Linked DNA regions of Homo sapiens: all the other regions are linked to region 3. The links come from fine-mapping of genetic effects on gene expression. A gene starts in region 3. Each other region holds a variant in brackets. All regions are shown on one strand. Distances are between the middles of the regions.

Region 1 (5,072 bases), 60 kb after region 3:
CCTCACTTCCCAGTAGGGGCGGCCGGGCAGAGGCGCCCCTCACCTCCCAGACGGGGCGGCTGGCCGGGCGGAGGGCTGACCCCCCCACCTCCCTCCCGGACAGGGCGGCTGGCCGGGCGGGGGGCTGACCCCCCCACCTCCCTCCCGGACGGGGCGGCTGGCCAGGCGGGGGGCTGACCCCCCCACCTCCCTCCCGGACGGGGCGGCTGGCCGGGTGGGGGGGCTGACCCCCCCATCTCCCTCCCGGACGGGGTGGCTGGCCGGGCTGAGGGGCTCCTCACTTCCCAGTAGGGGCGGCCGGGCAGAGGCGCCCCTCACCTCCCGGACGGGGCGGCTGGCCGGGCGGGGGGCTGACCCCCCCACCTCCCTCCCGGATGGCACAGCTGGCCGGGCGGGGGGGCTGACCCCCCACCTCCCTCCCGGATGGGGCGGCTGGCCGGGTGGGGGGCTGACCCCCCCCCACCTCCCTCCCGGACGGGGTGGCTGCTGGGCGGAGATGCTCCTCACTTCCCAGATGGGGTGGCTGCCGGGCGGAGAGGCTCCTCACTTCTCAGACGGGGCAGCTGCCGGGCGGAGGGGCTCCTCACTTCTCAGACGGGGTGGTTGCCAGGCAGAGGGTCTCCTCACTTCTCAGACGGGGCGGCCGGGCAGAGACGCTCCTCACCTCCCAGACGGGGTCTCGGCCGGGCAGAGGCGCTCCTCACATCCCAGATGGGGCGGCGGGGCAGAGGCGCTCCCCACATCTCAGACGATGGGCGGCCGGGCAGAGACGCTCCTCACTTCCTAGATGTGATGGCGGCTGGGAAGAGGTGCTCCTCACTTCCTAGATGGGATGGCAGCCGGGCGGAGACGCTCCTCACTTTCCAGACTGGGCAGCCAGGCAGAGGGGCTCCTCACATCCCAGACGATGGGCGGCCAGGCAGAGACACTCCTCACTTCCCAGACGGGGTGGCGGCCGGGCAGAGGCTGCAATCTCGGCACTTTGGGAGGCCAAGGCAGGCGGCTGGGAGGTGTAGGTTGTAGTGAGCCGAGATCACGCCACTGCACTCCAGCATGGGCACCATTGAGCACTGAGTGAACGAGACTCCGTCTGCAATCCCGGCACCTCGGGAGGCCGAGGTTGGCGGATCACTCGCGGTTAGGGGCTGGAGACCGGCCCGGCCAACACAGCGAAACCCTGTCTCCACCAAAACCAGTCAGGCGTGGCGGCGCGTGCCTGCAATCGCAGGCACTCGGCAGACTGAGGCAGGAGAATCAGGCAGGGAGGATGCAGTGAGCCGAGATGGCAGCAGTACAGTCCAGCTTCGGCTCCGCATGAGAGGGAGACCGTGGGGAGAGGGAGAGCGAGAGGGAGACGGAGAGCGAGAGGGAGACGGAGACGGAGAGCGAGAGGGAGAGGGAGAGGGGGAGGGGGAGGGGGAGGGGGAGGGGGAGGGAGAGGGAGAGGGCTGAGGTGTGTTTTTAAAAGGATGTTAGCTTTTAATTAAGCTGACTTTTAACCACTGAGCTCCTTTAAAAATCTCTTTATAATTCTCATTACCATATTTCAACTAGGACAAATTGCAGCTATTTCAGAACTGCCAAGTATTAAGCCAGAAAAAAACTTGATTTAGGAACTAACCCAGGTTGTAAACTGCTTTTTGGGTTTTGAGAACTGTCTGTGTTGATTGCTTCAAAATTGGTAGGGCCTGGGGACATAGGGAACTAACCACACCCTTAATTAAGAAGGTAAACCTTGGCTGCACTTAGCACACAATTAAAGCAACTTACCAGATTTTACCTTAACAGTAACAATTTGTAGGAGTTACTATTATATCATGTAATTGAAACTACTGAAAATAGATTTTCATGCAAGGTGTTTAAAAACAGTAAAATGTGTTCTCTAGTAAAAGATTACAAGAAGGCGTGGAAATGTAAACTGTTGCCTAGGGTTAAAGAATAGTTTTTCTTTTTTTTGTTTCTTTTTTTTTTTGAGACGGAGTCTTGCTCTGTTGCCAGGCTGGAGTGCAGTGGTGCAATCTCAGCTTACTGCAATCTCCACCTTCTGAGTCCAAGCGATTCTCCTGCTTCAGCCTCCTGAGTACCTGGGATTACAGGTGTGCTTCACCACACCCAGCTAATTTTTGTATTTTTAGTAGAGATGGGGTTTCACCATGTTGACCAGGATGGTCTTGATCTCCTGACCTTGTGATCTGCTCGCCTTGGCCTCCCAAAGT[G/T]CTGGGATCACAGATGTGAGCCACTGCACCCAGCTGATAGTTTTAAATTAGATAGGAAAAATCTGAAGGTTCAAAGAAGTGGTGGAAGAATTGTGGAAATTAATTTTGCATAAGAGGTTCTCTATGTAAAAATATTGACTAAATTTAAAAAATGGGTTATTTTATGGTTTTTCTGTAAATTGAGCATTGAAATAAAAGCATAACAAGGTCTTCCTAAGACACTAATCTGCTCTTTGGCAAAATCTGTAAAGGGCAATAAAAGGTTTTTGCTTCTTTAAAATTTCTGAATCATGATTTTGGAAACATAAAAAACTTATAATAATCTGCAATTCTATTTTATAATATCAAGTGTTTTAAACCTCGAACATTTAACAGCCTTCCCAAAATCAAACTTCAGTTTCAAAATTGTCTTCCCTTGCACTTAGCTTTTTGAATACTTCAGAAGGCCCCTGAAGTGTCCAGAAAAGAGAGGCAAACAGGATTATTTGACATTCCTCTAGGAAGCAAAAGAGCATTGTCCCCAACCATCCCAGCAGGAGGCAGGAGTAGAGAAGGGTTTATCCACTGTCCCTGCTTGCCCATACCTCACAACCCAGGGCTGGACACAGACACTAACGACAATTTCAATAAGTATTTAATGACTCATTATCATTTAGCAGCAGGGAGTTTAATTTTCAGTGATTGGCGAATTTCTTGTCATTCGGCTCTTGATTTTTCATTGGACTCAATTATGGTCACAGAACAGGGTTTGTATGATCTGTATTTTCAAACTGCTAACACAGATGATGCAACTCCAGCCGCTTGGAGTCCTGGACCCGCACAACCTCACTCAGTGGTCTCTAGACACCACATCCAGCCCCTGACGTTGAGGTTGGGCCCTGGGCTGGTCTCTACGTAGGTGCCCGGCTCCTCCCACAGCTCTCCACACAGTCAGTGCTGAGACCAGAGCCATTGATGACTGGTGTCTCTGCCAGGTACCACTCCTGTCTTCAGTCTCCAGGCCTCTTCATTAAGCCCTGCCTCAGTGCCTCAGCATCCACCCTACAGGATGTTGAAAATTTTCATCCCATTGAGGAATTACCCAGGAGATAGTCCCTCAAATAATATCTTGTCAAATAATGTCCAGGAGTGATTTCCTCTGAACAGTGCTCTGAATGTTCAGTTTTTCCCTACATGGGAAAACACTGACAAGCCCCTACACTGTTGAAGCCAATCTGCTCCTCCTAGGCACCACCTCCGAAAAAGCTGAACTCATCGCCCTCACTTAAGCTCTCACTCTAGCAACCAGACAACAGATGAATATACATTCAAATTCTCATTATGTGTTCCACGTAGTGCTCACACTCATCCATCTGGAAAGAATGGGGTTTCCTAACTGCAAAAAGCACTCCTGTCATAAATGGCTCTCTCATCAGCAAGCTCCTTCAAGCTTCCAAGCTCCCACAGAAAGTTGCCATCATTCATTGCAGAGGCCACCAAACCCCAGACAATCCTATATCGGCTGGAAATGAGCCAGCAGATCAGGTAGCCAAAAAAGTAGCCCTACATCCCATGCAAGGCCAGTTTCTGTCCTTGTCCTTGTTCTCTTCTCTTTACTCCTCACAAGAAAAGGAGGACTTCCAAGCCCCAAACCTTCAAAAGCAATGACCATGGTATGTCAAGGAAGGGTGCTTCACTCTCCCTCACTCTCAAAGCCTTCCTCACCTCCAAACCTCCACAAATATTTCCATGTCAGTTACAAACCTCTCCTGCAACTTCTCTGCCCTATCCTCACTTCTCCTCACCTTTCCAGCTGTGTTCAAGAGATTACCCAGTCCTGCTGTATCTGCCTCTCAGTGTCACCCCAAGGTTCTTTCTGGCCACTGCCTTTTCCTACCCACCAAGCCTGAGGCCAGGTACCCGGGCAAGATTGGCCGGTAGACTTCACCCACAAGCCACCTGATAAATTGCTCCACTATCTTCTGGTTTTTGTCTGTACTTTCTCCAGGTAGGTAGGAGCATTCCCAATAACTTCAGAAGGTACAAATATCATCACGCAAATGCTCATCATGCATATAATTGCCCATTTTGGACTCCCAACATCCATCCAGTCTGATAACAGGCCCACTTTCATCAGCCAAATCACCCAAGGTGTCTCTACATCTTTAAAAATAAAGTAAGTTCTCCACACACCCTACAGGCCTCAATCTTCACGCAAAGTTGAAAAAATGAACTCTGTCCTTAAAGCCCAACTCACCAAGCTGCTTCTAGAAACCCCCCAGTCGTGGACAAAAAATCTCCCTTTTACCCTCATGAGACTCCACGCAACACCAAAAGCACCCTCTTTCTATAGTCCCTTTGAAATCATGTATGGCCAAACTTTTGTCTTGGGGCCTCCACCCTTACCAGACTCTGAGCCACTCAGGAATTATTCCCCTTCTTAATCCAGACATGGTCTTTCATTCGTGAAGCAGCAAATGAGGCCATGCCTCTCCCTGTTGACACCTCCTTGTCCTCTCAACATAACTGTTTTGCAGGCACAGACACCTTTCCAGACAATCCAGATGATGCTCCTGCTACAATGACATGGTGGATACCAACCTGTCTCTCAAGAATAGCCCCAAAATTAAGTTTTTCTTTTTCCAAGGTGCCCATGCCACCCCATGTCACACCTGAAGTGGTTATTGAGAAAGTCGTCCTTTTTCCATAACCAAATAGACAGCAATGTAAAATTCTCCCCAGGGCCTGAAAGCTTAAGGAGATGAGCTCCCCACTTCTCAGGCTCAGTCCCAAGGCACAAGGCTACTTGTGCTAGTGGGGTGCACCAGCAAGATAGCAGAAGCAGGAAGAGAGCCGGCCGGAAGACACATACCCCTG
Region 2 (5,072 bases), 26 kb after region 3:
GCTCTAGGTTTTTGCAGCGCATCCTGGTATAGAAAACCACCTTGAAACCACTGCCACCGAAGGTAACTGTATTAGGCTCCTGGCAGGAGAGAGCACACTCAGATCGAGGAGAAATACACAGGGGGACTCTTTACAAAGGTGTGGGCAGGAGGTAGGAAGCACAAGGGATAGAACAGTACCCTAGGACCAGAGCGACAGGGCTCTGTGACCACTCCTAGCCCTGAAGATATAAGGGAAATAAGCAGTTACCAGAACCTGGGGACAGAAAGAGCTCTGCAGAGGATGCTGCTTGATATGAGCTGTGGCCTTTGGTCAAGGGATGCTGCCACCTTACAAGGGGGGAGGTGGGGGAATAAAGACTTGATCTCTTTCTCCTCTCTCCCTCATCTCTCTCTCTCTTTCTGTCTGCCTGCCTGTCTGTCTCTCTCTCTCTTTTTTGAGACAGAGTAATGCTCTGTTGCCCAGGCTGGAGTACAGTGGCACGATCTTGGCTCACCGCAACCTCTGTCTCCTGGGTTCAAGCAATTCTCCCTGCCTCGGCCTCCCAAGTAGCTGACATTACAGGCACACCCACCACCCAGGCTAATTTTTGTATTTTTAGTAGAGACTAGGTTTTGCCATGTTGGTCAGGCTGGTCTCAAACTCCTGGACCTCAGGTGATCCGCCTGCGTTGGCCTCCCAAAGTGTTGGTATTACAGGTGTGAGCCATCGGGCCCAGGCTCTCTCCCTTATCTCTTGCCAGTGCTTCTCATTGGCCAAATCCAATTGGAATCCAGAGGGCAAAGGGGTCTGTCTTTGTAGAACACGCAGGTTAGCCCACCAGGTCCTGGAGCAAGATAGAGAATTATAAATTATGATGATAGGTGGGGTGGGTACCAATGCAAGACCTCCATCACAGTAGCCATCCTTGGAAACACAGAAGTAGGGAAGGAGGCCCCGTGCATCTGAGGAGAAGACTATGATAAGACTCTATGTATTTTGAGGGCTTAAATGATAAATGATTTCATTCTGGGGTGGGGGGCTGGTTACTGAGGAGGCAAGAAGGGTAGTTCTGGGTTCATGAGGTGGGAGGTGCTAGTCTTATTCTGGGCTGGCCTGGAAGGTAGAGTGTAGGGATTGGAAAGAATTAGTTGCCCTGAATTAAGACTTAACAGCCAGGCTGGATGTGGTGGCTCGTGTGTGTAATCCCAGCACTCTGGGAGTCCGAAGTGGGTGGATTGCTTGAGCCAGGAGTTTGAGATGAGGCTGGGCAACATGATGAGACCCCGTCTCTACAAAAAATACAAAAATTAGCCAGGTGTGGTGGCACACGCCTGTTGTCCCAGCTACTTGGAAGGCTGAGGTGGGAGAATCACCTGAGCCCGGTGAGGTTGAGGCTGCAGTGAGTTGTGATTGTGCCACTGCACTCCAGCAGGGATGACAGAATGAGACTCTATCTACAAAAAAAGAAAAGAAAAGAAATGAAACGAAAAGAAAAGAATTAAGGTCTTGCGATTGAGCATAAAATGGGGAATTACCCTGCCCCGAAAATGCTATCAAGGGCTACATGCCTCCTTCTACAGTACCAGCCGGAGCAGAGGACCCAGCGCGCTGTGGCACTTCCTCAGAGCAGAGCACACAGCCCGCTGCGGCACTTCCTTGTAATGTCCTTTTTTTTTTTTTTTTTTTTTTTTTTTTGATACGAAGTCTCGCTCTTGTCCCCCAGGTTGGAGTGCGATGGTGCGATCTTGGCTCACTGTAACTTCTGCCTCCCGGGTTCAAGCGATTCTCTTGCCTCAGCCTTCCAAGTAGCTGGGATTACAGGCACCTGCCACCACGCCCGGCTAATTTTTGTATTTTTAGTAGAGACGGAGTGTTCACCATGTTGACCTGGTTGGTCTCGAACTCCTGACTTCAGTTGATCTGCCCGCCTCGGCTTCCTAAAGTGCTGGGATTACAGGTGTGAGCAACCACGCCCAGCCCCGCAGGAGAGGCTCCACTTGATCTTGACCGGAGGAGTTCCAGCCACGGCAGGGATGCCGAGCAGTC[T/C]CCTGACCAGCAGGTGGTGCTGTGGCGCAGCGGCAGAGAGCACCGCGGGCCGGTCCTGTTGAATGTCTCTGGGGCTGCCTCATGTTTGTGGGTAACAGAGGCAGAGGAACTTCAACCTGAAAGCCCTGGACTTCATTGCCACACACAGAGTGGGATGCCCATTTCCTGAAGATTAACTTTCACGGGGAAAAAGCTACTGCAGCCGGTGGCCAGGACTCGGCCAGAGACTCAGATGAGCTACTGTGTGGTGAATGTGTAACTCTCCAGGACAACTTCTGCTCTGCTGGCAGCCCTCACCCACCCGGCCCAGGCAGCGCATCTGGATGGGAAATGTGCCCCTTGCTCTCCCTCTCTTTCTCCTTGTCCCTTCCCAGAACATGGACATGATGATTGGAGCTCTGGCATTCTTAGAATATGAGGCCACCTTGAGTATTGAAACCATAAACTGAGTAGGGTAAAATTCAGACACAGAAAAAAGAGCCTGGAGCCTGGGAAATTGATTATTATGGGGTCAGTGTACCAACTTTACACTGCCTACTCCCAGATTTCTTTTAAATAAAAGAAGAGAAACCGGCTGGGCGCGGTGGCTCACGCCTGAAATCCCAGCACTTTGGGAGGCCGAAGCAAGTGGATCACCTGAGGTTGGGAGTTTGAGACCAGCCTGGCCAACATGGTGAAACCCCATCTCTATTAAAAATACAAAGTTAGCCAGCCATGGTGGCATGTGCCTGCAATACCAGCTACTCTGGAGGCTGAGGCAGGAGAATGGCTTGAACCCTGGAGGTGGAGGTTGCAGTGAGCCGAGATCGCACGATTGGACTCCAGCCTGGGCAACAAGGGCAAAACTCCGTCTCAAACAAAACAAAACAAAACAAAACAAAACAAAACAAAAACAAAAAAGAAACCACTATCTTGTTTATGTCAGTCATTTGGGTGTTATTTGTAGCCAAACATATTTCTAACTGATACACGTAGCCTGATGCGGTTTGGATCTGTGTCCCAACCCAAATCTCATATTGAAATGTAATCCCCAGGGCTGAAGGTGGGGCCTGGTAGGAGGTGATTGGATCATAGGGGTGGTTTCTCATGGTTTAACGTCATTTCCCCTTGGTGCTGTTGTCACAATAGTGAGTTCTCCTGAGATCTAGTCGTTTAAAAGTGTGTGGCCCCTCCCCCCAACTTGGTCCTGCTCTTGCCATGTAAGATGCCTGTTCCCACTTTGGCTTCCGCCACGTCTAAAAGCTCCCTGAAACCTCGAAGCAGATGCCACCAGCTTCCTGTGCAGCCTGCAGAACTGTAAGTCAATTAAACCTCTTTCCTTTATAAATTACCCAGTCTCAGGTATTTCTTCACAGCAGTGTGAAAATGGACTAATACACAGCCTAATACGACTTGTCACACAAAACCTTTCTGTGGACAGAATCTTAAAGAAAGAACTTCAGTAAGAAGAGAAATAAAACCAGAATGCTGATATGAGAGGTGTGGGAAAGCAAATATTTTAGTAAAGTTTATTGTTTTCCAAGAAAACAAGAACTAATAAAAGAGAAAGTGAACTGAGATGACCGGGGATTAATTTTAGATGTCGTGAAATGTTGAGGATGGAGGTATAACGTAGGAGTGATTGAAGGGAGGTGAGACTGAGCTAGTGCACTTATTTTATTTGGGGAACAACACAGGTACTAATAAGTTAAAGGATTGATGGAAAAATTATACCTATATATAGGTCAGTAAGTAAGGGACAATCACCAGAACAGCAAAAATACAATGCATAACTTTCGAACCAGCAGAATGAAATTAGTCCATAGTAGGAACATTTAAAAAGTGCTGGAAGTAGAAAATGTAAAGTGGCAGAATTAAACTCTAATGTAAGCAAGAAAGTTAGAAAAAAGTATAGGAAACAGAAAACAAAATGAGGTGAGAGAAAGGTGCTCAACACCACTGATCATCAGAGAAATGCAAATCAAAAGCTGCAATGAGATATCATCTCATCCCAGTTAAAATGGCTTATATCTAGAAGACAGACAATAACAAATGCTGGAGGGGATGTGGAGAAAAGGAGACCCTCATACACTGTAGGCATGAGTGTAAATTAGCACAACTATTATGGAGAAGAGTTTGATGGTTCCTCAAAAAACTAAAAATAGAGCTACTATATGATTCAGCAATCCCACTTCTAAGTATATACCCAAAAGAAAGGAATTGTTATATTGAAAAGATATCTGCACTCCCATGTTTGTTGCAGCACTGTTCACAATACCCAAGATTTGGAAGCAACCTAAGTGTTCATCAACAGAAGAATGGGTAAAGAAAATGTGGTACATATACACAATGGATACTATTTAACCATTAAAAAGATGAGATCCTGTCATTTGCAACAACATAGATGAAATTGGATATCGTTACATTAAGTAAAATAAACCAGGCACAAAAAGACAAATATTTCATGTTGTCACTTGTTTGTGGGATTTAAAATCAAAACAATTGAACTAATGGAGATAAGAGAGTAGAAGGAATGGTAGTAGAGGAGTGGGTGGGGGGAAGTGAGGATGGTTAATGGGTACAAAACAATAGAAAGAATGAATAAGACCTACTACTTGATAGCACACAGGGTGACCATAGTCAATAATAATTTAACCAAACTTAAAAATAACTAAAATAGGCTGGGCGCGGTGGCTCACGCCTGTAATCCCAGCACTTTGGGAGGCTGAGGCAGGTGGATCATGAGGTCAGGAGATTGACACCATCCTGGCTAACACAGTGAAACCCCATCTCTACTAAAAATACAAAAAATTAGCCGGGCGTGGTGGCAGGCGCCTGTAGTCCCAGCTACTGGGGAGGCTGAGGGACGAGAATGGTGTGAACCCAGGAGATGGAGCTTGCAGTGAGCCGAGATGGCGCCACTGCACTCCAGCCTGGGTGACAGAGCGAGACTCCATCTCAAAACAAACAAACAAACAAACAAACAAAAAAACTAAAATAGTATAATTGGATTGTTTGTAACACAAAGGATAAGCACTTGAGAGGATAAATACCCCATTTTCCTT
Region 3 (5,072 bases):
AATCATTTAATGTTCATTATGAGTTAACTTGAGTTAGTTTAACACAAGTTAACCAACTTAAGAGAGTTACATGATCAACTCATTTAATGTTCAGATTCAATAAATCAAGCAAATTTCTTAGACCACTGCCTGATACATGGTAGATACTCATATTAGCTATAATGATTAGTATTCCAAAAAAGGGTGGACTGAGTGAAAGAAGCGAAACACAAAGGAATACACTCTGCACTCCAAAGTTAACCTGAAAACTTTGGAACCTTGTCGGGGGAGGTAGGACATGCCTCATTATTCCCTCCTCCCTTTTGGAATTCAGGCCCAGCTGACCAGCACTAACATTAAAACAGATCTTAAGACTGACAAAGCAGACTTTGTAGCAATAAGATACCAAATTCCAGCGGGACTCTAGTATGACATCACATGACAGATAGCAAGCCCTGAAAGTGAAGTATTTTACCCCAAATTACGTTTCTTCGCCATATCTTGAAATAGTCCTGCAAAGCTAAAGCTATCTCTTGTGGGGAAAATCTACATTCTGAAGAGAATCCCCTTCCTTTTCTAGGCCTTTTTCCTGATTCAGGAGAGAATCAACTCTGATAAGAAACATTTACAATTTATTCTCTCAATAGACTGCTACCTGGAGACTTCCTCTGCCTAAGGGAAATCTTGGTCTCCTCAACCTCTTATCTTAATGCAGACATTCCCTTCTTTTTTCAGTTTTTTTTTTTTTTTTTGAGATAGTCTCGCTCTGTCGCCCAGGCTGGAGTGATCTCGGCTCACTGCAACCTCTGCCTCTCAGGTTCAAGCTATTCTCCTGCCTCGGCCTCCCGAGTAGCTGGGGTTACAGGCTCCTAGCACCACGCCTGGCTTTTTTTTTTTTTCTTTTGTATTTTTAGTAGAGGTGGCTTTTCACCTGTTAGCCAGGCTGGTCTCGAACTCCTGACCTCAGGTGATCCACCCGCCTTGGCCTCCCAAAGTGCTGGGATTACAGGCGTGAGCCACCGTGCTAAACCGCCTTCTATTAATTCTATCTGCAGCCACAAGTCCTTATATAATCCAGACATTCCCTTCTGTGGATTCCAGGTGTTTGGACAAAACTTTAAATCAATTGTTCATCAGAAAATCTTTGAATCTTAACTATGACCTGGAAACCACTCCCCCTCCCCCAGTAGTCTCACCTCTCCAGATGGAACCAATGTATGTCTTGTATGTACTGATTGACATCTTATGTCTCTCCAGAAGCACACATTCTCAGGATTTCCCAAGAGCTGTATCAGAGGCCATTGGTCACTCATATTTGCCTCAGTATAAATCTCTACAAATATTTTAGCGTTTGACTCTTTTCAGCACAGGTAGAAAAATTAAATATTGTTTCTTTTTTACATACTTAGTTTCACCCCAAAGCTCATTAGATTCCCTAACACTATGTAGGTTCTATTTATTCTGAAGAAGGAGCTTGACCTGACTCACATTATTTACTAGCTGAAAGGCACATTTACCTGCGTTGAACTCGGGATCGTCTTCCAGGGCGACGACAGCTCCCTCTACGGCATCCACGGCGCTCCCGCCCTCCCGGAGGATGCCGTAGCCCACGGTGGCGGCTCTGACCATGCCCTGGTGCACTCGCTCCTTCCGATCCTTGGAGATGGGACCGGCTCCGCCGCCGTGGACCACTACGATGGGATTCATGTCGGCGGATCCTAGGCAGCAGGAAGGCGAAAGCGTCGTCCAAAGCCAGCCCAAGGAAGCCGCGCGGGTACAAGGTCCTCGGGAGACCCTGTGGGGACAATGCCCAGTCTCTGTTCTGAACGGCTGGGTTCGCAGCTGGGGGTGGGTAGGGGCGGCTCGGTCGAGCTTGGTACGAAAAGCCCAGGGGCCCGGCGCCCTCCCGCGTTCCTCTCCGCCCCCGGCCCGGACCTGCTGGGGGTCTCAGTTTCCCCGGGGACGTTAACCCGCGCCCACCGCCGCCCGCCTCCAAGCCCCGGCGCCGAAGGAGGATGTCTATTTCGCCTTCGGGAAAATGTCTATTTTCGTTTATTTCATTCGCCCTCCCGCGTCTCGGGCGGCTGCTCCGGGAGGGCCGCCGACTTACCCAGGGCACCGCAGGACGCGGACGCCGAGACCTCAAGCTGGGTCGAGCCAGCCCCGCAGCCGCCCGGTACCGCCGCTCCCCGACGCCGGCTCGAAACCGCTCAGCCCGCAACCGCTCTGGTCACAACGGTTCTGCGCCTGCGCACGAGGGCGGGACCGCCGCACGGCCCAGTTCCCATAAAGCCCCGAAGGCCGGCTGGCGCGCACCTGTCTCACTCCTCTCAAGAGTCTACGCTCTTGGCCGGCCCGAGCTTCCTGGTGGCACGCGGGGAACCTCCTGCTCCTGACCAGGCTAGGGGCTGGGTGGTTGGGTTGGTGGCGAGAAGCGTGAAGTGGCATGCCACGATTTTGTAATTGCAGATTGAAAAGCAACGCTAGGCTGTGCGCAGTGGCTCATGCCTTGTAATCCCAGCACTTTGAGAGGCCGAGGCGGACGGATCACCTGAGGTCGGGAGTTCGAGACCAGCCTGACCAACACGGAGAAACCCTGTCCCTACTAAAAACACAAAATTAGCTGGGCGTGGTGGCGCATGCCTGTAATCCCAGCTACTCTGGAGGCTAAGGCACGAGAATCGTTTGAACCTGGGAGGCGGAGGTTGCGGTGAGTGGAAATCGCGCCATTGCACTCCAGCCTGGGCAACAAGAGTGAAACTCCGAATCAAAAGAAAAAAAAATTATACTGGGACAATGGGCATAAACAGGGACAGATCCAGGCAAACTGTGATTGATCTCCTGTGGATAGGAGAGTCCTTTCCCTTCTTGTTTACCCACAACTGATAACATATTTTACCACTCTTGGGAATTCCCTTTACTCCTGTTTTACCTTCGTTTCCTGCCTTAAGGCCCAGTTTAAATGAACCCCTCCTGCAAAGCCTTCTCCCTGGCACCCCACTAAGGATCAGTCATTCCCTTTCTAGTGACCTATTGTTAGAGATTACCACAAATTTATTGGCTTCAAACAACACACATTATCTTACAGTTCTGGTGGTCAGAAATTCAAACTGGGTCTGCAGGGTTGAGTTCCTTCGGGAAGCTCCAGAAGAGAATCTGTCTTTTCTTGCTTCTACAAGCTGCCTGTATCCTTGGCTCATGGCCTCATCCTCCATTGCCAAAGCCAACAGCCTAGCATCTTTAACTCTCTCTCCCTCTGGCCTGTTTCTGCTGCTACGTCACTTCTCTCTCTGTCACCATCATCACGATTTTCTTTTCTGACTCTGACTCTCCTGCCTCCTTCTTAAAGGAAGTCCCTTGGGATGACATTGGGCCCACCCAGATAACCCAGGATAATCTCCCTTTCTTACAATTTCTATTCTCATCTGCAAAGTCCCTTTTGCCATGTGAGGAGTGTTCACAGGTGGAGATTCGGATGTGACACCTTTGAGGGCCGTTATTCTGTCTCCCACACTCACCTCTTGGAAGAGGGTTATTTTAGCACGTCTCAACTGGTCGTGAGCCTAGTTGTGTCATCATAATACAGCTCACCATCATTTGGTTTCAGCTATTTATAGGAACCTGAACCCTACCCTATGCCTAGCCCTAACTCAAACCCCATCTCTACTGTTTTTCCTGATTGATCTGGAATTCAGTGATCTGGCTGAGGCTGGGGAAGGTGGCTGGTGGCCCAAGCAGGTAGAATGTTGGTTTCCATTTGATCCTCCCATCTCAGCCTCATGCGTTTATCTACTTCTCTGATGGGCTTCGTATTCCCCATCCCAATCCAAAGTCTCTTAGATAAATTCTCTAGAAAATAAACTTCTGGTCTTTGAGGAGGAAAGAGGAAGCATCTTTTTGTCCGGCTCTGTGGGATAGGAGAAGGAATCTGGCTAACTCCTCTGTAGACGATGTTCCATCAACAATCATTTTATGGATTAAGGATTGTATTCAACTGTCCCTGACGAAACGTGACCACAGTGGTTTAACCAGATAACTGTTGATTTGAAAACAACAATAACAACAACAACAACAACAACAACAACAAGACATCTAGTGGTTGCTGCCCAGGCTGGTGCAGCAGCTCCAAGGTGACACAGATGTCCCATCTCCTTCTCTTCCCTTCAGCATGTGGCTTTCACATTTATGGTGCTCCTAGGCACCTTGATCACTATTGGGGCAGAAGGAATGGGGAAGGGCAAAGGGAAGAAGGCTTTTGCCAGCTCCCCTTTGTTCCTTTAATTCAGGAAAGCTCTCTAGCTTTCCTAGAAGTCCTCCAAGTGGACTTTTATTGGCCAGAACTGGATTGGGGGGCTGCCCCTAGTGGCAAGAGAGTCTGAGTTTTTATTTTAGCAGGGTACATCATGGCCCTGGATAAAATCAAGGTCTCTTGGCAAGAAGGAAGGGTGACAGGCTATTGGAGAGACAACTGGGAACACCTGCCACTCCTGCCTCCCCATCTTTGAGATTCCTGTGTGTCTAAGCCCTGAGTCTCTCAAGCGTTCTCCAGAACAAATGGATTCACCTCTCAAGTAGATTACAACTTCCTTTAATCTGCCATTTGTTATTCATCTTCCAAAGTGACCTTTTTTACCTGCCATTGTCATCTCTCCCATTCTTCCTGTCTTTGTGGGTAGTATTCTTTTTAAGATTGTTTACTATCATTTTAGAGGGATTTTTGAAGGGAGGAGTAACCCATTTGTGTGACTGGGGAGGTTGACTAGAGCCCCAAGGAAGTGATTCTAACTACAGTGGCTCTGGATGTTCTAGGAGGAGGAGGGTTGGGTTAGGGAATGCCAGAGTTGGGGAGAGGAGGTGGGACCAGAAAAGGAGGGACTGGGCAGGGACTGGGCATTTCTGGGTCAGAAATGAAGGAGGCATATTAGAGAGATTGACGAAGAAGAAATGGGGGTGGGAGGGAGGAAGAGAAGAAAAAAAGAAAGAAGCAACTAACATTTCCTTCCTTTCCTTCCCTTCCTTCCCTTTCTTTCCTTTCTTTCTTTCTTCTTTGAGACGGAGTCTCGCTCTGTTGCCCAGGCTGGAGTATAGTGGTG
Region 4 (5,072 bases), 440 kb after region 3:
CCCTATTGGACTACTAGGAGGGGCTGGCAGGGCCTCCATAGCACAGAATTGCCCCAAAGCCTTGTTAAGATGAGTCAAGACCCCTCCCCCGCTTCCTCCCTTCCTTTCCCCCTTCCTCCCTCCCCCTTCATAAAGGCCTCCCTTGTCACCTTCCCTCCCACCCCGTCTCAGCCCTGTGCTCCTGGAGGCCCTGCTCCCAAAACCGCTGGAAGGACTGGGGCACTTTCTGCCACAGTAGAACACAGACAGGGCTTCAGATCACCCACGCCTGTTTTCAGCTGTGGGTGGCCATGCAGACACGCGCCCTGGCATGTGGGGCCTGGGTGGGCAGGCAGGACCTGGGCCCTCCCACCCATCAGAGCCCACTCAGGACCAGCGTTCGGAGCTCCCACCTGGACGCATCCCTCACCACGTCCGGATTTCCTTCTTTGGATGGAATGTAACGCGATCTCTATTTAATAAAGGCAGGCTTTGTTGGTACAGGCTGGGTGGCCACGCGCCCTCACTCCTGCACCCTGGGGCTCTGGCCAAGGCTTGGGCATCTGAAGGAATGAAACCAAATCCTTTCCCTGCCCGCCCTCGTGCTTGGGATTAAACCCAAATCCTGAAGCCACCCCACCTCCGCCATCACCACTTACTTGCTGTGGGGAGGACTATTTGAGTCCTCCCTTAGTATTCAGAGGGCTGTGGGTTACTGGGGGATGAGCCAGGCCTCCCTCTCCCCGTGGCTGGTGGCCTGCTGTTGGGAAGAACGGCACCAAGGCTGGCTCTCCCACTGCCTCACTGTGGCACCTTGGCCAGGTCCTCCCCTGGGTCTCCTTGCATCCAGCAATGGTTACCTCCAGTCTCACAGAAGCCTGCAGCTCAGAGGCAAAGCATCGAGGCTGCCTGTTGCTCAGTGGGACAGTGGCAGGATTGATTGGTGATGTCTGCTGGAAGCACAGGCGGGGACCATGGAAGCCCAGGTCTTAGACGAGCTCTCAGCAAGGGGCAGCAGTCACAGTTGGAAGAGGTGGGGGTGGCCAGGACCTCTGAGGACCCAGAGTGGGGCTGGGAAGGTGTCTTGTGGTGGCTGAGCCCCTCCCCACCTGTAGGGATGTGGGCCCAGGCCAATAGATGCCTTCTTGGGGTGGTGGAGAGCATAGCAGCTTCTGAGTCGGGTCAGTATCTACTGGGCTGGTGACACCTTGTGGGGACTTCCGTATTGGCCTGAGGCCTTGGTGCCACTCAGCTGGTAGGTCAGGCTAGCTGTGGACTGGCCAGGACCACAGGAAGCCCTCCACCCATGCTGGGGACACCTGTGCTTGAGCTGAGAATGTCCAGGGGGAAGACTGGCAATCAAAAACATACCAGGAACACGCACAGGGCATCAGATGGAAGAGAGGAAAGCAGGCAGGCAAAGGAGGATGTCAGAAAAGGGCGCAAGAGGCTGTGTTCACTGCTGTGATCCCCACAGCCTCTCTTGCGTGGCAGTCGCTTTCTCTCCTCTCTGTCAGTCCTGGGTCAGCTGGGGGGCCAAAGGAAGTTGGAGGTCTGGGCCCTGGAGCTGTCCACCCTACCCCCAGCTTCTGTGCTCCTGGCCCAGCAACACTGAAGACCTAGGAGACACCAGACCACACTCCAGGGGCCAGGCAGAGGGTCCCATACCCCAGACCCGCGCTGCCTGCCCCTGCAATGGCATAGCCTGCTGTCAGACCCCAAGTGGGGTCATAAACAGAGAACTGAAATGCCTGGAGGATGGACATACACTCTCAGTATCTCCCAACGAGAGATAATAGCTGAGCACTGACTGTGCCAGGCATGATTCTAAACCCTTTAAATGATCTAATTCATTTCATCCTCACAGCAACCTTATAGAGTACTATTCTCCCATTTTGCAGATGAGTAGAATGAGGCACACAGAAGTGCCACAGAGGAAATGATGGCCCCGGGATAGGAATCATGAGGCCAGCCCTGGAGCCCACAGTATGAACCAGCATCCTGGATTCCCTTTCCTAGACACCTGCAATGTGCTTAAAGGTGGCTGGGGAGGGTTAGCCGACATCAGCCACGAGGGAGTTGTTCCTCTTAAATGGATTTTCTAGATAACCCACTTGGGCCTCTCTGAGTACCCCTGGCACATGTGAACATTTTAACCCTCTTTGGCCCCCTCTTCAAACCTAGCAACGACTCTGGCCTCTGAGGGTGGAGGCGCTGAGCCGAGACCAGCTGCGCACTGGCGTGCTTCACTCCTGCAGGATGCTTTCCAGTCTGCCAAGACTGTCCTGATGGAACTCCTGCCGGGGCTGTGCACCTGGGCAAAGTCGCTCCTCTCTGGGCTTCAGTTTCCTCATCTGTGAGTTGGAAATATAGGACTAAATGGCTTTCGCAGCCTCCTTGCCTTTTTCATTTTATTACGGTAAAAAACCCATAACTTGTACTACCTTAACTCTTTTTTTTTAATTGTTGTTTTTGTTTTGTTTTGTTTTGAGACGGAGTCTCACTCTGTCACCCAGGCTGGAGTGCGGTGGCGCAATCTAGGCTTACTGCAATCTCCGCCTCCCGGGTTGAAGCAATTCTCCTGCCCCAGCCTCTCAAGTAGCTGGGTCTACAGGCATGAGCCCCTATGCCCAGCTAATTTTTTGTGTGTGAATTTTTTTTTTTTTTTCAGTAGAGACGGGGTTTTACCATGTTGGCCAGGCTGGTCTTGAACTCCTGACCTCAAGTGATCCGCCCGCCTCAGCCTCCCACAGTGCTGGGATTACAGGTGTGAGCCACTGTGCCTGGCCCTCCCTTAACCATTTTTAAGTGTATAGTTCAGTAGT[G/A]CTAAGTCCATTTACAGTGTTCCGAAACATCTCCAGAACATTTTCATTTCACAAAACTGAGACTCTGTACCCATTAATCAACCCTCTATTTCCACCTCCTCCCAGCCCCAGGCAACCCCCATTCTACTTTCTATGAATTTCACTGCACGAGGGCCCTCATTTAAGTGGATGATGCAGTATTTGTCCTCTCATTACTGGCTTCTTTCACTTCATGTCCTCAGTGTCCATCTGTTGTAGCATGTGACAGGATTTCCTTCCTTTTTAAGACTGAATAATATTCCATTGTATGCATAGACCACGTTTTATTTTTTATTTTTAATTTTATTATATTATAATTAATTATTACTCCAGGCTGGAGTGCAATGGTGCGATCTCGGCTCACCGCAACCTCCACCTCCTGGGTTCAAGCCTTTCTCCTGCCTCAGCCTCCTGAGTAGCTGGGATTACAGGCATGCGCCACCATGCCTGGCTAATTTTTGTATTTTTAGTAGAGACAGGGTTTCTCCATGTTGGCCATGATGGTCTCAAACTCCTGATCTCAGGTGATCCGCCCGCCTCAGCCTCCCAAAGTGCTGGGATTACAGGTGTGAGCCACCGCGCCTGGCCTGACCACGTTTTGTTTATCCAGTGTCTGTGGATGGACAGTTGTGCTGCCTCACAATGACCTCTTGGCCATTGTGAATAATGCTGCTAAGAAAATAGATGTACAAATATCTCCTCAAGACTCTGCTTTCGGTTCTTTTGGGTATATGCCCAGAAATGGAATTGCTGAATCATAGGCATTTTAAAGCCATTTTCATACTCTTTTCTATAGTTGGCTATAGCACTTCACATTCTTACCCACAATGCACAAGGGTTCTGCATCATTGCCAACACGTGTGATTTGATTTTTTGAGACCAGGTCTCCCTCTGTAGCCCAGGCTGGAGTACAATGGCATGATCTTGGGGCACTACAACCTCTGCTTCCCAGGCTCAAGCGATCCTCCTACCTCAGCCTCCTAAGTAGCTGGGACTACAGGCGCACGCACCACCATGCCCTGCTAGTTTTTTTTTTTTTTTTTTTGTAGAAATAGGGTTTTGTCATGTTGCCCAGGCTGGTCTCGAACCCCTAGGCTCAAGAGATCCTCCCAAAGTGCTGGGATTACAGGCGTGAACCACCATGCCTGGCATGATTTTTTCATTTATGTATTTATTTATTAAAGACGGGGTTCCTGCTATGTTGCCGAGGCTGGTCTTGAACTCCAGGGCTCAAGCAATCCTCCTGCCTCGGCCTCCCAAAGTGGTGGGATTCCAGGCCTTTTTCTTTTTTATAGGAGCCCTCCTAACAAGTGTGAGACAGTATTTCATTGTGGTTTCATTTGCAGCTCTCTGATGATTAGCAATGCTGAGCACCTTTTCGTGTGTGTGTTGCCCATTTGTGTGCAGCCCCTCTTTCCTGAGGAGCATTCTGAGGAGCTCCGCCTGGCCTCCACAGTGATCCCTTCGAGGAGGACTTGGCCAATAGGGCTGTGATCCCTGCCCTCACTCACGGCTCTTGCATGATTCTGTGGCCCCCCCTTCATCTTCCCCATCTCTTCTGGGGGCAGCTGGGGAAAGTGGAGGTTCTAACCTATCACAACCCCCAACCACCTCACACACAGGGGCTGAGACCAGGCCAGGGCTGGCTCCAAGGAAGAAGCCCCTAGGATGGCCACATCTGACCACTCAGGGCTGCTGAAGGTGGGGCCAGGGCCAGGTCCATGCCTTCAGTGGATTTTGGTGCAGGGGATGCATTCCTTCAAGAATCTGCCTTCTCCATTCCTGTGCTGTGTGAACATGGTACGGGGTAGGGGTGCCTGCAGCCCCCTTGGGCCAGGGCCACCAGCCATGCTCTTGCACCCCCACACACATGTGCCAGGTTGGGGTTCCAGGATATGGTCAGTGGGTGCCTCAGTGGAGAGGGCCCAGGCAGCCCCGGTGCCTGATGACATCATGGGCCTTGCTGGATGTCCTGACAAGCAAAGGCAGGAGCTCCTGGTACCAGGGAGAACTCGCCCCCTCTGCCCTTCTGGGGATACTGGTCCTCTTTAGACCAAGACAAAATATTAGCATATCAGAGAAATATACTTAGGGTTTTCTAAGTGCATTTCCCCAACCAGCCGGTCAGCATCACCTGTGAACTGGCCATGTAAGTCTCTGCCTCCACACCAGACCCACCGAATAACCCTCCTGGGTGGTTCTGATGGAAGCCTTTCAGGTGGTTCTGATGGAAGATTGACGACCAGCGCT
Region 5 (5,072 bases), 450 kb after region 3:
GTAATTGCAGCCAACAGTTATTGACTAGGCACTGTTCTGAGGGGTTTAGATGTGGTAACTGATTGAATTCGCCTAACAACTTTATGAGGTAAGTCCTATTGTTAGCCCATTTTGTAGATGAGGAGACTGAGTTTGAAACTGGGGGGTGTAATGGAACCTTCTCAGGACCCTTGAAGGGTAGGGCCTTTGTACTCGGGCCACGAGGGTGGGGTTTGTGTCTGGGTGGGAGCTGGGGAGGGACAGGACTAGGATTAGGCAGATCTGAGGCCACAGGAGTTGGTTGGGGGGTGGCTCCAGAGCCACTCCACTCCCTCCTACCACATTGACTGCCTTGAAAGTCCCCTAATGGCCACTCCCATGAAGTGTGACTGCTCTGGGCTCCCCGCAGGCGTTTTCTGCAAGGCCACCGCCCACCCAGGCCCCTTCCCCAGAGGGGCTGCAGTGCCTTGCTCCTTCCTTGTGGGAAGAGTTGGGATTGTCTGGCGTCAGCAGGATACTGCCCCTGGGCATCCCTCCCGGTCTCTTCCTGCGGGTTTCTGATGAAACAGCCAGGCTCCAGTAGTGGAGCCAGAGGTCAGTGGTGGAGAGAGGACCAGGAGCCAGAGGGTATAGCTGCTTTGGGGCTACTGTGGGGTCAGGGACACTTGTGAGGCCAAGCGTCCTGGCTGCAGGAGCCCTCACATATATGCCCACCCTTCACCAGGACATTGAGGGGTGCTGGGGGACAGGGGTAGCTTTTTGGGGGTGTCTGCCTTCGACTTGGGCTCCGCTACACAGGCCAAATTTGGATGTCCCATGTTTAGAGCTGTGTTTCTTTGGGACCTCTTGGGGCCTCAGTTTCCTCATCTGTAAAATGGGATACTGATAGTGCTTCCCCACTGGCCTCCTCTGACGGGCGCCAGGGAGAGGATGGGACGGAGCATGGTGTGCTGGGCACGCTCCTGCTGTACCCACCCACCTGGGAGAGGGGAGAGGCAGGAATGTCCTGGGGGTGTCCTTTGAGGCATAGCCCTGTCACCCCAACATCCTACAAAGGCATGAGAAGGCAGCGAGGACAGACCCCGACCACCTGAGCCCTCAGCAGCCCTGCCACACTCCCTGCTTCACCCCCTTCCTGACTGATCTGGCACATTCTTGATTCTCCTAGGGAGTGACCCAAAATCCCTCCCTGCCCTGCTGTGTCTCTGGGGTGGAAGGAGGCTGCCAGCCCCTCCTCTCTCCCAGCCTCAGGCTTGGCCAGGACTTAACAGGCAGGCAGAGAAGCAGCTTCTCCACTCTCTTCCCTGACACCTGTAGGCCCCTCCTGCAGGCACTTACCTCTAAGTGGACTCTCAGGAGGAGGCTCATCAGGGCTGCAGGGCTCAGAAAGAGCTGGGCTGTGGAGCTCTTGCCAACCGCCAGGCCCCTTCTAAGTGCTTTAGCGCCACCGACTGCATCCTCCCAGCAGCCTTGTGAGATGGGGATTTGTGGTTCCCAGTTTACTGATGAGAAATACTGATGAGAGATGGGTGTGGTCTTGTCTGGGGCTCCCTGGCTCCTGGATAGCAGCTCAGGTTCCATCCTGGGCAGGCTGGCTCTGGGACACCCCCCCGACCAGCTGCTGTGTGGGATTCACGGTGGGGCTTGGGCAGGGCGTGGGATCTTGGGGCCAACTGAGCCACTCTAGGCTTCCAGGGACCAAGGCCAGGCTGAGCTGTCTCTGTATCCTGAGAGAGCATGAACATCACAGAAGATGGGCCCGGGTTCGAATCCCAGCTCTGCCACTACTAACTGGGACCTGGGCAGGTGTCCCTTCCCGCTGAGCCTTCATTTCCTCACCAGCAAAATGGTTCGTGCCCCTGCTTTGGGGGCTGTGGAGGGTTGGCTCTTGTCTACTTGTTCATACCTGCTGTTGAGCAGCTGCTCTGTGCCGGCCTCTGAGGATGCCACTGTGAACAGAGCCTGTCGCTACCTCCAGGAGCTTGTGTTTAGGGGTGCCGTTTTGATTCCAGCACTTTCACCCAGCTCTGCTCCGGTACCCGATGAGAGACGTCGAGTGCCGCTTTCCACTCGCTTGGGTGCGTGTGGGGGTTGGGGGGACAGGGCTTTGTGCACGTACCCCTGGGTGGATGTTCCTGGGTGCACTTAGGGTGTGTGAGGGTGGGACCTCCCACAGTTCCCTGAGGCTCCACTGATGAGGTCCAAGAACCGCCTTCCTGCCCCCCAGCCCAGGCTCCCAGCAGCTGGGCCCTTGGCTTCTTGAGATAGTGACTGGCCTCACGGCAAGGACCCC[C/T]GCACACCACCTAGGAGAACTGCTGCTTCCCCTCTGTTCCAGGAGTGGCGACAAGCACAGTTTTTCGCTTTTGTTTTTGTTTTCTTCACTTTAAGTTCCGGGAAACGTGCAGAATGTGCAGGTTTGTTACATAGGTATACATGTGCCATGGTGGTTTGCTGCACCCGTCAACCCCTCATCTAGGTTTTAAGCTCCATATACATTAGGCATTTGTCCTAATGCTCTCCCTCCCCTTGCCCCTCACCCGCCCAGTAAGCCCCGGTGTGTGATGTTCCCTTCCCTGTGTCCATGTGTTCTCATTGTTCAACTCTCACTTATGAGTGAGAAGAGACCTGGACTCTGATCTAACCTCGGTCAAATGGAACTGTGTGACCTTGAAGAAGTAGCTTAACCTCTCTGAGTCTTAGCTTCTGCCTGGCACCCCCATCCTTAAGGAGAGGCCCACAGAGGACCAGGTCACATGACCTCAGCCAGTTCCAGAGAAGGCTGTTTGCTTCCAGGTTTCGGCCTGAGTCCAGGCCCCTGCCCTACTCGCACTCCCTGATAGCATGAGAAGCACAGCCCCAGGGTGCCCACCCAGCTCTGAGAGCCCAGCCTGCTTCCCAGGGAACTGTCACAGCCCCACCTGTCCCTTCCCCAGCTGGAGCCCTGTCAATGGCTTTGGGGTTCTCTGACACAGCCCTGAGGGGGCTCACACTTCCCCTTATCATTGCAAGGGGTAGATCTGGCTTGAAGGCCCTGGGGCAGGCTTGGTTCTGTCCTCCCCTGTCAGTGCCTCGACAGGGCTGGCCTGGGTGAATCAGGACCAACGGGAAAGGAGGCGAGGAGACCAATCTGGACCCAAGATCCTCAGCTCAATAAGGTGGCCCCAGAACTGACATGGGGTGATAGAGGGAAGGGCTGGGAGGGAGGAGATTCTGGGGCCGCAGCCACAGCTTGCACGTTGCGCCGGGTGTGTCTGTGCGTGCCAGCTGCATCTTTGCGTACCATGTGTGCAAGGCTGTGTTTGGCTGAGTGTTCATGTGGGCCGTGATTGTGGGCATGTTTCTGAGTGTCTGAGTGATGCCTGCTGGTGTGGGCTGGTGGGTGTGTCTGCATGTGCGTGTGTGTCTGGGGAGTTTCAAAGGAGAAAGAGGGACTCACCATCACGCTGGCTCAGCCTTAAAAAGGTAGGACATCCTGACACGTGCTGCAACATGGATGGACCTTAAGGACATTGTGCTGAGTGAAACAAGCCAGAGGCAAAGGAACAAACATGTGATTTCTCCCAGATGAGGTTTCCGGAGGAGGCAGATCTGTATGGACAGAAGGTAGCATGGTGGTTGCCGGGGCAGGGGGAGGAGAGAATGGAGAATTAGTGTTTAATGGGGACAGAGTTTCAGTTGGGGAAGGTGAAAAGGTTCTGGAGCTGGATGATGGTGATGGTTGGACAACACTGTGCATGCACTTAATACCACTGAGCTGGACACCTAAAAATGCTTACAATGGTAAATTTCATGTATATTTTACTACAATTTTTAAAAAATTGGCTGGGCGTGGTGGCTTATGCCTGTAATCCCAACACTTTGGGAGGCCAAGGCGGGAGGATTGCTTGAGCTCAGGAGTTCAACACCAGCCTGGGCAATATGGTGAAACCCCGACTCTACGAAATATACAAAAATTAGCCTGGTGTGGTGGCTTGCACCTCTAATCCCACCTACTCAGTAGGCTAAGGCACAAGAATCTCTTGAACCTGGGAGGTGGAGGTTGCAGTAAGCCGAGATCATGCCACTGCAACCCAGTCTGGGCGACAGAGCAAGACTCTGTCTCAAAAAATAAAAGATAAATAAAAAAATTAGAGGCCAGGTGTGGCTCACACCTGTACTCTCAACACTTTGGGAGGCTGAGGTGGGAGGATCGCTTGAAGTCAGGCATTTAAGACATGCCTAGGCAACATAGTGAGACCTTGACTCTACAAAAAAATTCAAAAGTTAATGAGACATGGTGGCATGTGCCTGTAGTCCTAGCTGCTGGGGAGGCTGAGGTGGGAGGATCACTTACGACCAGGATTTCAAGGCTGCAGTGAGCTGTGATTGCATCACTGCACTCCAGCCTGGTGACAGAGTGAGGCCCTGTCTCAAAAAAATTTTTCAGTGTTTTTCTGGGCTGGGCGTGGTGGCTCATTCCTGTAATTCCAGCACTTTGGGAGGCTGAGGTGGGTGGATTGCTTGAGCCCAGGAGTTTAAGACCAGCTGGGCAACATGGCAAACCTCATCTCTACAAAAAATAAAAATAAAAAATTAGCTGGGCATGGTGGTGCACACCTGTACTAACAGCTACGAGAGAGGCTAAGGTGGGAGGATCACCTGAGCCCGGGAGGTTGAGGCTGCAGTGAGCCATGATTGCACCACTGCACTCTAGCCTGGGCGATACAGCAAGACCCTATCTCAAAAAAAAAAAAAAAAAAAAAAAAAAAAAACACCCAGTGGGGTCAGTAGAACCCCAAGAGTCTTCTTCCCTCCCAGCTCCCCTGTACACCAGCCCCAGCTCTGCAGGTAGCTGGGGGCCCAGACAGCTTCCTGGGGACCCCCAGCCTTCCCTCTGCCCTTTTTTCTACCAGTTTTGCTGCCCCTCCTTCAAGACTCATGTCCAGAGGGGGTGAGATCTGCACTTATACAGCCCCCTCCTCTGTAATGAGTGAGCCAAGTCAGCCCAGGTTATTCCAGAAGGGGCACCCTACCAGCCCCCCAGTCCCCAAGCTGCCCTGGGCCTATAAAAGCAGGCAAGGGGACCCCTAGTAGATCATGTAGGTGTTACCTCT
Region 6 (5,072 bases), 62 kb before region 3:
TTCTCAGCTTCTCACCACCCCCACATTTGCTCCCTCCACCCCAACTCTTGTTCTCATGGAGCCCTGCCCTCTCTCTTCCTGCAGGCCCTGACCTGCTGGGGACCCTCCCGTAAGAGCTTCACCAGTGATTGGGAGCTGAGCTCTTGTCCTCAAAGGCAGGGGAGGGAGAGAGGGCAAGGGGACCCCAACCCTGTGAAGTCACTGGTGCAGATGGAGTTGCCCTGTAGGCTGTGGGGTTAGGAGGGGTGGTGGGCAGGGCTGGCTGTGTTTCCCAGGCCTCAGGGTGGGCTTGCCTCAACCAGGCACCTTCGCAGCCAGGGCTGAAGCACCTGTAATCCCGCCTTCCTCAGGACAAGTGAAGGACGCATCTAGGGATTCATTCTTTCATTTCACAGATATTTATTGCACATGGTGCCGGAGAATGGCTATGAGCAAGACAGAGGTGGTCTCTGTTCTCAAGGCAGCTACAGAGGGACAGCCACTCCCCCAGCCCCCAACTATGAGCTTCCCAGAACTGGCCTGAAGGTGCAGCTGCAATGATACGGGCTCACATCCTGGCATCCTCATTTGCTAGCGTGAAAATCGCATTTCTCCAAACCTCGGTTTTCTCATCTGAAAAACAGGCACAGCACCTAGTTTGCAGGACTGGGAAAGTTACAGAGGGTTAATGGCAATGCGGTTGGCCTTGGGCACTCCTTGTTCTGACCTCTGGAGTTCGGCTGCCCTGTGGTCTGGCCCTGGCTCTGTGGAGAGGCTTTCCCAGGCCGAGGGGCTCACCAGGCCTTCCCTAGTGAGGAGCTCTTTCTGCCAGAGCTGAGCTCATGGGCAGGGCGGGGCGCAGAGGCCACATATCAGCCAGCTGTCCTCCCTTTCCTGGGAGCTGGTCCAGAGACGAGGGGCAGGGCGTCTGGTTTTCATTGTGCGGCCGTCTCTAATTCCTCTGGCATCTGAGCTACTTTTCAGAAGGAGGGAGATGCACTTAACTGGTTGTGACCCAGCTTGGTGCTGAGGAAGAAGCCCTGGGCCTGGGATCAAGCAGAGTTGAACTCGAAGCCTGCCTCAGCCACTTACCTGCTGTGTGACGCGGGTAAGGCACTCCACAGCACTGAGTGTCAGGGGCCCCGATTGGAAAATGGCAATGATGATTTCTGCCCTGGCTACTCCACAAAGTAGAAATAGATGCAAACGTGTTTCATAAAACATAAAATATGAAGCTGGGGTTCTCCTCTGTGTTAATAGCATGGAGGGTTGGGGTTCTGCCCAGTGCCCAAGCCTTGCACAGAAATAGCCGCGCCCCTGCTGGTCCATGTGTCCAAAATGGTTAAAGCAACTTTGGGTCCATGGAACAGAGGTGCATTTCAGAAGCTGCTGGCTGGTGACCATGAGGAGGGCCAGGGCTCAGAAAAGGAACGGCTCACTCTGGTTGGTATGGTTAATAAAATAATAGCTAACATTTACCGACGGCTTATGAAGGGGCAGGCACACTTCTGAGAACTTTCCAGTTGTTAATCAATCCTCATAACAACCCTCTCAGAGAGGTTACTACTGTTCCCCCTGTGAGGACCTTTGAGGGAGGAAAGGCATTTCTGGAGAGGGAATTGGGTGTGCAAAGGCCTGGGGAGCCCCTCATATCCTGGGGGGCAGTGGGGGACCCGGCCTACAGCCAGGAGGGGCTGGCCTATGGGGCCTTGAAAGTCGGCCAAGGGGTTTAGACTGGATCCAGGCAGCAGGAGGAATCCCTGGAGCCCCCTGCGTGACCTCATTCTGGAGGATGGGTGGGATAGCGCTTCTGGGAGGGGCTGTGATGGACTGGTGTGGGTGGAGAGTTCAGGGAAGGAGGTGGGATTTCCTTATTCTTGGGTCTTCATCCTTGAGCACAGGCCCAGCTGCCACCCTAGTGGCCGCCACGGGCAGCCTCGATGCTGAGATGGGCTCAAAAGCCAGGCTGTGTGTGGTATGGGGTCTCAGAGCCCAGGCAGGGCCAGGGTGGCACCAAATGGCCTGCAGCTTAGTCCTGATGCTGCTTGTGCCCTAGCCCTCACAGGTAGCTCTCCAGGGGCCAACTGTACCCCATCCTGGGAGCTGACCCCAGGAAGGTCAGGGCAGTGCTGCCCGCTGGGTCCTAGAGGTGCCTGGAACATCTTGCTCACACCAGCAGGACACTCATGCCTTCCCCATCTGAGCCCGCTGCAGGCAGACCCTGGCCAGGGGCTGGCTGAGTTGGGGAGGGGGCAGGAGGGCCGTAGCCATGGTGGTTAGAGACAGGAGCAGTGTTGGTACCCTTTCTCTCAAATAAAATGAAGCCCCTTGCCAGGGAGGCCACTGTAGAGCTGGCACGAAGGAGGCTTCCTGTCTGAAGGAGCTGGTGCAGACACACCGGTGGGGCACCCGGCAGAACAACAGCAGAAGATCTGCAATCACACGAACTGGCTGCCTGTTCTCTACACGAGTCCAAGTGAGAACTCTGGGCTGGGAATGCTAAGGAGGCGAGTGTGGGGAGAATTCTCAGTTCTGCAGGGTGCCTTGCCCTGAGTCCTGACCCTTTGTGCTTGAGAGCAGTGGACAAATATGTTGGAAGTTCTTTTTTTTTGAGTTGGAGTTTTGTTCTTGTCGCCCAGGCTGGAGTGCAGTGGCATGATCCTGGCTCACTTCAACCTCTGCCTCCCGGGTTCAAGCAATTCTCCTGCCTCAGTCTCCTGAGTAGCTGGGACTACAGGCATGTGCCACCACGCCCAGTTAATTTTGTATTTTAGTAGACACGGGGTTTTGCACCACCACGTCCAGCTAATTCTGTATTTTTAGTAGACACGGGGTTTCACCATGTTGGCCAGGTTGGTCTTCAACTCCTAACCTCAGGTCATCTGCCTGTCTTGGCCTCCCAAAGAACTGAGATTACAGGCATGAGTCACTGCGCCTGGCCATATATTGGAATTTCTAGGGAAGACAGGGAAAG[G/A]GCTTGGGGAAAGTGATGGACTTTTAGTCATGAGGCATCCAGGGTGTGATATTTGTGCCAAAGCCAGAGATAAGACAACAAAGATGGCCCGGAAGATTGTGAGGCCTGACAGAGAAAGGCCAGATCTGGGGTGAGGTCACCGGGGAGACATGCCGGCCTGCAATGAGCCGCCGCCGCTAGCGGGAGTGGGCCCAGGGGAGGGGCGGGGAGCAGATGGGAGGAGGAGGGGAACTGGCCTTGGTGTTTCTTACTTTTAAAAAAGATGAAATACTTGGTGTCTGCAAAGAAAGTTGGGAGAATTTGGGGGTTCGAGCCCCCGGGGATCTTCACTGGGTAGCCAGGGAATGTGGTTCTATGCCCGAGGTAAATGTTCCTGGATTTGGTGTGAGTGGCCTCCACCTGGGGTAATTTGTAAACACTTCTGAAAGTGGCCCTTTGGCCAACAAGCACGTGGGGTAGCTCTGGCTCCTAGCTGTGTGGGAAAGGCTGAGGTGAGGGGAGCTGGGAAGGGAGCACACACGCTTTTTGTATGAGGGGAAGTGACCTGGGAAGAGGCCGCTGAGGAAGGGTGGGGGCAGGTCCTTTCCTGGTGGTGGCGCAGGGTGGACTTGCTCCCCACCTGCTCTTCTCACTCCAAGTCACCCTTTGCCAAACTTCTGGGTGGGGCCTTGTGCTTTGGCACAACCCATATTTCCCTTTCCAAACCCTCCCCAGCCCACAGGCCAGCGCTGCATGGCTCCTGCGGTGGCAGGGTGTCGACATTTCTGTTTGAAATGGTCGGCCTGGCCCCCAGCGCCTGTGGTGGTGTTCAGCCAGGTGCTTCCCTCACTCAACGAGGGGCAGCCTGACAAGCAGAAGATGCGACGCCGAGGGGCCCGGGGCCCTAACTACCCAGCAAGCAGTGCCAGTAAGAAAGGTGCTGGATTTGAACAATTCTGCTAAAAAGACAATTTTTGAGAAAACTGGGGAAATTTGAATATTGACCAAATATTAGGTAAGGTGAACATTTCTTGGCAAGCAATGGTGGAGAGTGTTAACTGAAACATACATGGCATGGTCTCACTTTTGAAAAAATAATTATGCATATACACACCCAGAAAAAGATCTGCAAGAATATACAGTAAGATTTTAATAGTGATATTCACTGGCTGATAGGAAATTTTTCCCGTGGTTTTTTTTTTTTTTTTTTGAGACGGAGTTTGATTCTTGTTGTCCAGGCTGGAGTGCAATGGCGTGATCTTGGCTCACCACAGTCTCCACCTTCCGGGTTCAAGTGATTCTCCTGCCTCAGCCTCTCCAGTAGCTGCGATTACAGGCATGCATCACCATGCCCGGCTAATTTTGTATTTTTAGTAGAGACGGGGTTTCTCCATGTTGGTCAGACTGGTCTCGAACCCTGACCTCAGGTGATCTGCCCGCTTCAGCCTCCCAAAGTGCTGGGATTACAAGCATGAGCCACCATGCCCAGCGTCCCCCATTTTTTGTTGTTTTTTTCTCACATGTGCTTTACATTTTTCATTATTCTTGGCCGGGCACGGTGGCTCACGCCTGTAATCCCAGCACTTTGGGAGGCCGAGGTGGGAGGATCACGAGGTCAAGAAATCAAGACTATCCTGATCAACATGGTGAAACTCCATCTCTACTAAAAATACAAAAATTAGCTGGGCGTGGTGGCGTGTGCCTGTGGTCCCAGCCACTCGGGAGGCTGAGGCAGGAGAATCGCTTGAACCCAGGAGACGGAGGTTGCAGTGAGCCAAGATCGCGCCACTGCACTCCAGCCTGGGTAACAGAGTGAGACTCCGTCTCAAAAAAAACAAACAAAAAAGTTTAATAACAAACTGCTGCCCTGCAAGGTGACAATCCAGGGCCAAGGCGGGCAGGCATGAGGCCGGTGGCTGCTGAGAGGAGCCTCAGTATTACAGAGATAGGACAGGAAGACTCAACCTCTTTTCTCCTTGGCTGCCTGCTGTGGATAAGAACTCTAACACTTATCTGAGTTCTGCACATGATCCAGAAAGTGCTGATAATTGCATAGCAAAAAAGTTAACTCTTGAGATGATCAGTGATTAAAAAAAAAAAAATCACCCCAGGCTGGTTTCCCCTATCAGCAGAGTCCATG

Direction of the effects. Positions count from the first base shown, and alleles are read on the strand shown. Sizes are in standard deviations (SD) of each study's normalised expression. Not every link is listed here.
In carriers of allele C in region 2, the expression in breast of the gene that starts at base 2,216 in region 3 tends to be lower than with T alone (small effect, 0.25 SD a copy in GTEx).

What was found. PIP is the estimated chance that this variant, and not a neighbour inherited with it, causes the effect.
Region 1: its variant is fine-mapped to the expression of ASRGL1 in whole blood (INTERVAL, PIP 0.96).
Region 2: its variant is fine-mapped to the expression of ASRGL1 in breast (GTEx, PIP 0.95).
Region 4: its variant is fine-mapped to the expression of ASRGL1 in cerebellum (GTEx, PIP above 0.99).
Region 5: its variant is fine-mapped to the expression of ASRGL1 in spleen (GTEx, PIP 0.97).
Region 6: its variant is fine-mapped to the expression of ASRGL1 in whole blood (TOPMed, PIP above 0.99).

What each region holds. Positions count from the first base shown.
Region 1 is chr11:62,274,218-62,279,289 of GRCh38, reverse strand. No RefSeq gene overlaps it. Among named protein-coding and RNA genes, the nearest start is that of SCGB2A2, 6.6 kb to the right of the region's middle. The variant G/T (reference allele first, on the strand shown) is at 2,217.
Region 2 is chr11:62,308,304-62,313,375 of GRCh38, reverse strand. No RefSeq gene overlaps it. Among named protein-coding and RNA genes, the nearest start is that of SCGB1D4, 12 kb to the right of the region's middle. The variant T/C (reference allele first, on the strand shown) is at 2,029.
Region 3 is chr11:62,334,592-62,339,663 of GRCh38, reverse strand. It overlaps ASRGL1 (asparaginase and isoaspartyl peptidase 1), which reads right to left and starts at 2,216. Exons shown (of 7, transcript NM_001083926.2): 1 at 2,090-2,216; 2 at 1,497-1,774. The coding sequence starts at 1,686. RefSeq lists an enhancer at 1,636-2,305.
Region 4 is chr11:61,892,709-61,897,780 of GRCh38, reverse strand. RAB3IL1 (RAB3A interacting protein like 1) reads left to right here. Exons shown (of 10, transcript NM_013401.4): 10 at 1-480. Among named protein-coding and RNA genes, the nearest start is that of FADS3, 3.7 kb to the right of the region's middle. The variant G/A (reference allele first, on the strand shown) is at 2,805.
Region 5 is chr11:61,881,757-61,886,828 of GRCh38, reverse strand. All of the region lies in intron 1 of FADS3 (fatty acid desaturase 3), which reads left to right. Among named protein-coding and RNA genes, the nearest start is that of MIR6746, 6.0 kb to the right of the region's middle. The variant C/T (reference allele first, on the strand shown) is at 2,273.
Region 6 is chr11:62,396,735-62,401,806 of GRCh38, reverse strand. It overlaps a transcript of ASRGL1 not described here. Among named protein-coding and RNA genes, the nearest start is that of SCGB1A1, 20 kb to the left of the region's middle. RefSeq lists enhancers at 2,909-3,553, 4,221-4,720, 4,721-5,072. The variant G/A (reference allele first, on the strand shown) is at 2,954.